Linked DNA regions of Homo sapiens. The protein of the gene in region 1 purifies or fractionates together with the protein of each later gene. This does not show direct contact. Each region holds a gene or a part of one and is shown on either strand. Other genes may lie near its edges. The genes, in order: PCDHGA3 and KCNA4.

Region 1 (3,932 bases):
TCGGGGATCCTGTCGGCCACGGCCACGGTGAGCGTGACAGTGGCGGAGAGAGGGGGCTGGCCGTGGTCCTGGACGGCCACCACGAGGCTCTGCTTGAGCGCGTCTCTGTCCAGCAGGGCTCGCGCCGTGCGCACCTCGCCCGTGTGCAGACCCACCGAGAAGAGTCCCGGCTCGCTGGCCTTGAGCAGGCGGTAGGACAGCCAGGCGTTCTGGCCCGAGTCTCTGTCCACCGCCACCACCTTGGTCACCAGGTAGCCGGGCTCTGCGGAGCGAGGCGCCAGCTCCACGCCAGTGGAACCGTCTGTGGGGAGGGCGGGGTACAGGATCTCGGGCGCGTTGTCGTTCTGGTCCAGCACGAACAGGTTCAGCGACACGTTGCTGCTGAGTGGAGGGTTCCCGCTGTCGCTGGCTGTCACCAGTAGCTTTAAGTCTCTAAATTGCTCGTAGTCGAAGGATCTCAGCGCGTATAGGACGCCAGTGTTGGAGTTGATAGAGACGAAGGAGGACAGGGGCGCCCCCTGGAGAGTGTCCTCGGTCAATGCATAAGTGATGCGGGCGTTGTTGTTGCTATCTGGGTCCTGGGCTGTCACTGAGAAGATGGAGGCTCCTCTGGGGTTGTTTTCTGGAATGTAGGCGGAGTAGGATAAATGAGGGAAGGTGGGTGGGTTGTCATTGATGTCAATCACATGCAGGGTGATGTGAGTTTCTGTGGACAGTGGCGGGCTTCCCCCATCTGAGGCTCTCAGACTAATGTTATATTCTGATATTTGTTCGCGGTCCAGGGATGTGGCCGTCACTAAGCGGTAATATTGATCTATTGATTTTTCTAACTTAAATGGCAGATTTCCCAGGACAAAAACTTCAACCTGCCCATTCTGCCCAGAATCTCGGTCATGCACGTCGATAAGAGCAATTTCTCTTCCAACGGTGCCCTCTTCTGGGACTGAGCTTGTGAGAGACGTGATTGTAATTTCTGGAGCATTGTCATTCACATCCAGAACCGTGACTAGAATCTTGGCTCTTGAAAGAAGACCTGGTCCATCCTGTGCTTCAATTTTAATTTCATAGAACATGGCATCCTCATAATCTAGACTTTTTAATATTGATACTTCTCCACTCACTGAGTTAAGATGGAAAATCTCAGCGATTTTCCCAGGCATTTTATCTAGAATATAAGACACTTGAGCATTGAATCCCTCGTCAGGGTCAGTGGCATTCACCGTGAGCAGCCGGGTACCCACAGGCACGTTCTCCCAAACACTCACACGGTACTCAGGCTGAGTAAACATTGGTGGGTTGTCATTTGCATCCAGGACTATCACTTGGATGTGCAAGTTGCCAGAGTGGACAGGGTCGCCACCATCAGAGGCAACCAGGACAAGCTGGTGAATTTCTTTTTTCTCACGGTCCAGGGCCCGCTCCAGCACCAGCTCTGGATACTTGGCCCCCTCAGAGACGCTATTCACAGCCAGAGAGAAGTAGTCATTGGGGCTAAGCTTGTAGTTCTGCAGGGAGTTAATGCCTACATCTGGGTCAAAAGCAGTTTTAATTGGAAATCGGGTTCCAGGAACCGTTAGTTCACCAATTTTTATTTCCAATTCCTCTGTTGGGAAATTAGGAGCATTATCATTAATATCTTTAATTTCTATTTCTACTTCAAAAATTTTCAATTTATCCTCAACCAGAATGTTAATTTTTACCAGACACAGCGGGATCTGAGCGCAGAGCTCCTCCCGGTCTATCCTCTCCGCGGTGACCAAGCTGCCGCTTTGCGGATTCAGAGAGAAAAGCTGCGTCCTACCTCTGGAGACGATGCGGACTCCGCGCTCCGCCAGCTCCCGGGGCTCTAGCCCCAGGTCGTTAGCGATGTTGCCCACGAAGGAACCTTTATCTAGCTCCTCAGACACCGAGTAGCGGATCTGACCGGATCCTGTTTCGCACAGCGTCCCCAGGAGCGCGCACAGCAGGGCCAGTCCTCTGCCATTTCGGAAACTCAGGCAATTGGTCATTTCCTTTTCGGTGAATCGCTTTCTCTGAATTCGGTTCCAGTTTCCTACGACGGACTCCAATCTTATTTTCTCAAGAAACGAAGTCTTTTACGGGCCTAATTCACAGGTCAAACAGCTGGTTGACTAAGAGGTGAGGTTGGCAGCCGCCCCGGATCTTCTGAGTCTGATTTGCTGGTTCTTTGCATTTTAGGAGCAAGGAAATGGTGGACTAGTTCTCCAGCTGCGTTCTCCTTCTTGAGTGGTCAACAGCGACACTAAGAGGCCTAACCGTTTACTGCATCCTCTCAGACACATTATTATTTTTGAATTATCCAAGATCTGAAATCCTTCTTGTCAGAGATAAGAGGACTAGTGTTGATTGAACATAATTGAATCGATATATGTTAAACAGTGTCACCTCAAGTTATCTTTCTTGGGAATCCATGCACTAACCTTAATGCCACCAATATTGCTTCAAACATAGTGGAGTTAACTTTTTTGAATTGTTCAGTTTAAGAAACACACAGTAACAAAGAACTGGCCGTAAGGACCAACACAACTATTAAAAGACATGACCACCACTTGTTCTTCCACCACTGAACCTTGATAATGTGTTTATTCTTATACTTACTACATTTATCAGGGTTATTTGATAAGATATCCACCTCCTCTTTGACCTTTCCCTCTCTATACTCTTAACTCTCTAAGAGCTGAGACAAGGAAAAAAAGAAAAGAAACACACAGAAATCAGCCATATTTATACATTATATTTCTTTAAGTTTGTTCTTGGTGACCTGATAACTTAGTTTCGATATTTGTTGTTATTTAATATTCATTAAACAAACACATAATTAGGCATCAGACAATATGTTTGGGGATTTAAGGTGAACAATATAGACACAGTAGCTTCCTTCACAGAGATTATAAGGATATAAAAGCAAACAGGGAATTGCAGTGTACTGAGATAATTACCATAATGGGAGAAGCCAAGGGGGTTAGGGGGGCCTTCAATTGGGCCTTTAATGTTAGCAAACGCTTTCCCAGGAAACATGAGAGGAGTGGATCAGTGAAAAGGCCTGGATGTGGGAGAGAACAGCATGACAATGCCTAGGTGTGAGAGAGAAATCACAGACCTTCAGGGTACTGAAAGAAGTTTCCTTTGTTTAAATCTAGACTGTAAGGATGTTTTTTCAAAACCAACTGAAACTAGTAGAAATAAGCTTTTATGTTCCAGAATCTCTTTCCCCATAAGTTTCCAAGCACAGAAATATAAATACAATATATTTGTCGTTTCAATCATGATGCATTACATATCTATGCATAAGACATTTATTCTTGTGGAGTTACTACACACACTAAAAATAACTTTGCTTTAATTTTCCTGTTTATACTTTATTATTCACTTACAAGTAAAGCTATTATGACATATTATTCCACAGTGAGTTCCAATTTTACTCATAGACAATTATGTAATAGTAACCAAAACAACACCTTGTCTCAGAAAATTTTTTCTTGATCAAATGCAACGGAAAGAATCACAGCACTTTGAGAAATATGGTATCATTCAATAAAAGGCTCAATTGGTACATGATAATTTTCAAATAAAAATAAAAAATGATGCCAGTTACATAGAACATTAGTGTGCTTATTATTCTCTGTTATTAAATACATAACCAACATACTAAAAGCCAATATAGGAAGAGGAATGGGAAAAGAAAATTGATCAGAGGGGCACTGGGATTGGGTGAGGGATTGGGAACATTTCTAGCAGCTATTGTGAGTAGAAACCTTGAGAAGAGAGATGTATAAAGAAGTTGGTTCTGGGCAATTGTATGATATGAATCTTTTGTATCTTTTCTTTAAGCAAAACTATATTGAGGATATATATTATTTTAAAGATTAAAATACAGTATGGTTCCCACGTATGAGAAAGATAAAAAAAAA
Region 2 (2,733 bases), on another chromosome or scaffold:
AAGGTGTTCTAGAAAAGTATTTCTCTACAAATGGTGGGGAAAGGGTGGAGAGGGGGTGCAGTTTTACTTTTAAGCCTAATGTTGAATTTACTTTGAATTTCAAATACCATTAAAGGAGAGGTAGGATTTATGTAATTATGAAATGATGGCCTGGATTTTAAAAAGCTTGAGAAAGGCTATTCTAGGTCAGTTTGTTTGTTTGTAGCTCACAGTTACCAGAGTTCACTATGTGCCGAAATAGTGTATGCAGTGTTGTTTGTTTTGTTTTGTTCCCCCGCCCCCAACCAGAGCTCAAGACAATCATTTTATAAAGAACAGAAGTTAAATAAACATTGTAGAATAAGGCCTCTTATGCATTCTGAGTTTTCTAACCTATACCTCATGATTTCATAGTGCAAGGCTGATCGCTAGTTGTTATCTCACATTCTAGAATGCTTTGTCATGACTTAAATGCAGTTATATGTGTCATAAATTCCTTTAATAAAGATAATAATGATGGTGATGTTGAAACCAAATGTTTGACACAATTCTTCCTTATGTCCATTTTAGCAAATATAATGTTAAAATCTGAGGTTAATCCCCAAATTCTGTTCTTATATAACTGCACAAAAAAATAAACTTAATAAATCTAGCGTTTATGTTTCACATTTAATAGAAAAATTTTAAGCCATAATCACTGTAGCTGCTTGGCATCTTCTTCAAGAATTCTTTCAGTGCATGCATTAACTTTGGTTAAATTATTCTGGAGTTAAAAGGCAGAAGAATATATAAAATAGTATGATTTCAGAAGCATCATTCTAACAGACCAATTTCAAAAGATTCAGTTGCTAAATTTTACTTCATAATTCCTTTGTCAATCAGTTATTTAGATTTTAAAAGAGGAGAGAATCCTGTGATGTTATCTGCATGATCATTAGTCTCACACAATGAAAAGAAAACAATAAAATAAGACTAAAGAAATCATTCTTCCAATGATTGTCATTGAACTGTTACATTAGTAAACATTCACAGTTTGAAGTCTCTCTCAATCTCCAGCATATAAAGTAGTGCAAAGAAAAAAAAATCCAGTCCTGTTACCTGCAAACAAAACTTATTACATATTCTCCAATTTCACTTATTCTATAATGTTAGACATTTGCTGTTAAGTCTTCCCAAAATTAATAACAAAATATAATCAATTTCTAAAGGCCCTTGCAGCCTTTTTAAAAGTTAATTTCCAGTTAAAAATAAATTTTAATTAAATCCAAGATAAAATTGTGACCTATAGTCTATTAAATAATTTACTTTCTTTTTTCTCTACACAGTATTTCTTACAATTTTTAAAAAACAACTACAGAATCCAAAGACATACGATATGCTGTTAAAGCACTGATAAATGACTGCTCAGATTCATTAGTTCTTACATAGTAAATACTTCAAAATGCCAACTTTTCCCTTCACTGCACAATTACTAACATTGACAATTTACTTCACACACACACACATATACACACACACGCACACACTCTCTCTCTCCATCTTTACTGTTAACATCTTTTCCAGTTAATGTGCAAAATTCTTGCATTCTAATAAAAATATAAAGATAGATTTGCTCCTATTCCTCCCTCTTCTCCAAGATGTATCATTTATTTGATATGTAATACAAGTTTAGTAACAATTATGCCATGTATAACCATTAAATAGTGTACTACTGTATGCATTGGATCATTTGCATATTTCATTTTCATAACTGCACTCTCTATGCATAAATATATTTGGAGATGCTGAGGGGGGAGCAGTGGCAGGTGGAAAAAGATTCACACATCAGTCTCCACAGCCTTTGCATTAGAACAGTTGTTTTTATCTGTCTCACTGTCATCCCCCTTTCCCTGACACTTCTCCTCCTTTGCACACAGAGATTCCTTAACTCCTTCTTCCATCTCTAGATACTCTGACTTGTCCCCCAGGGAAGAAGAAGTAGAGCTCCGAAATTTCTTGAGCAAATTAGAGGGGAGGTATGGACAACTGACTGCATTCTGCGTTAGCTGTGTCTGTTCCTCATTTTCAGTCTCTCTGTGGTAGAAATAGTTAAAGTTAGAGACAATCACTGGCACTGGCAAAGCAATGGTTAAGACACCCGCAATGGCACACAGGGACCCGACAATCTTGCCCCCTACAGTGATGGGCTTCATGTCCCCATAGCCCACAGTTGTCATGGTCACCACAGCCCACCAAAATGCATCTGGGATGCTTTGGAAATGGGTAGTAGGTTCATCCGCCTCTGCAAAATACACAGCACTAGAAAAGAGGATGACCCCAATGAAGAGGAAGAAGATCAGAAGGCCCAGTTCCCGCATGCTGGCTCTGAGGGTGTGGCCCAGGATCTGCAGGCCTTTGGAGTGCCTGGAGAGTTTGAAGATCCGGAATACTCGGACCAGACGAATGATTCTGAGGATGGCAAAGGACATGGCCTGCTGCTGCTGACCATTGCCACCCCCCTGTTGCTGGGCCAGGTCAGTGCCCAGTGTGATGAAGTAAGGCAAAATGGAGACAATGTCAATGATGTTCATGATGTTTTTGAAGAAGAGTGCTTGGCTGGGACAAGCAAAGCAGCGAACCACAAACTCAAAGGAAAACCATACAATACAGACTGTTTCCACGATGAAGAAGGGGTCATTGAATATTGTGTGCCCTGAGTTCTCCAGATGGGGTGCTGAAGTATCATTCAACAACCCACCATGCCCGCCAGCACTC

Evidence for each region.
Region 2: the proteins of PCDHGA3 (region 1) and KCNA4 purify together in Homo sapiens (affinity purification with mass spectrometry; one large-scale study listed by BioGRID and IntAct). This does not show direct contact.

The regions. Positions count from the first base shown.
Region 1 is NC_000005.10:141,342,111-141,346,042, reverse strand, and holds the start of PCDHGA3 (protocadherin gamma-A3 isoform 1 precursor), read right to left. Parts: upstream 2,215-3,932; 5' UTR 2,010-2,214; coding exon 1-2,009. UniProt on the Homo sapiens protein: Potential calcium-dependent cell-adhesion protein. May be involved in the establishment and maintenance of specific neuronal connections in the brain.
Region 2 is NC_000011.10:30,008,921-30,011,653, forward strand, and holds the end of KCNA4 (potassium voltage-gated channel subfamily A member 4), read right to left. Parts: coding exon 1,797-2,733; 3' UTR 810-1,796; downstream 1-809. UniProt on the Homo sapiens protein: Voltage-gated potassium channel that mediates transmembrane potassium transport in excitable membranes. Forms tetrameric potassium-selective channels through which potassium ions pass in accordance with their electrochemical gradient.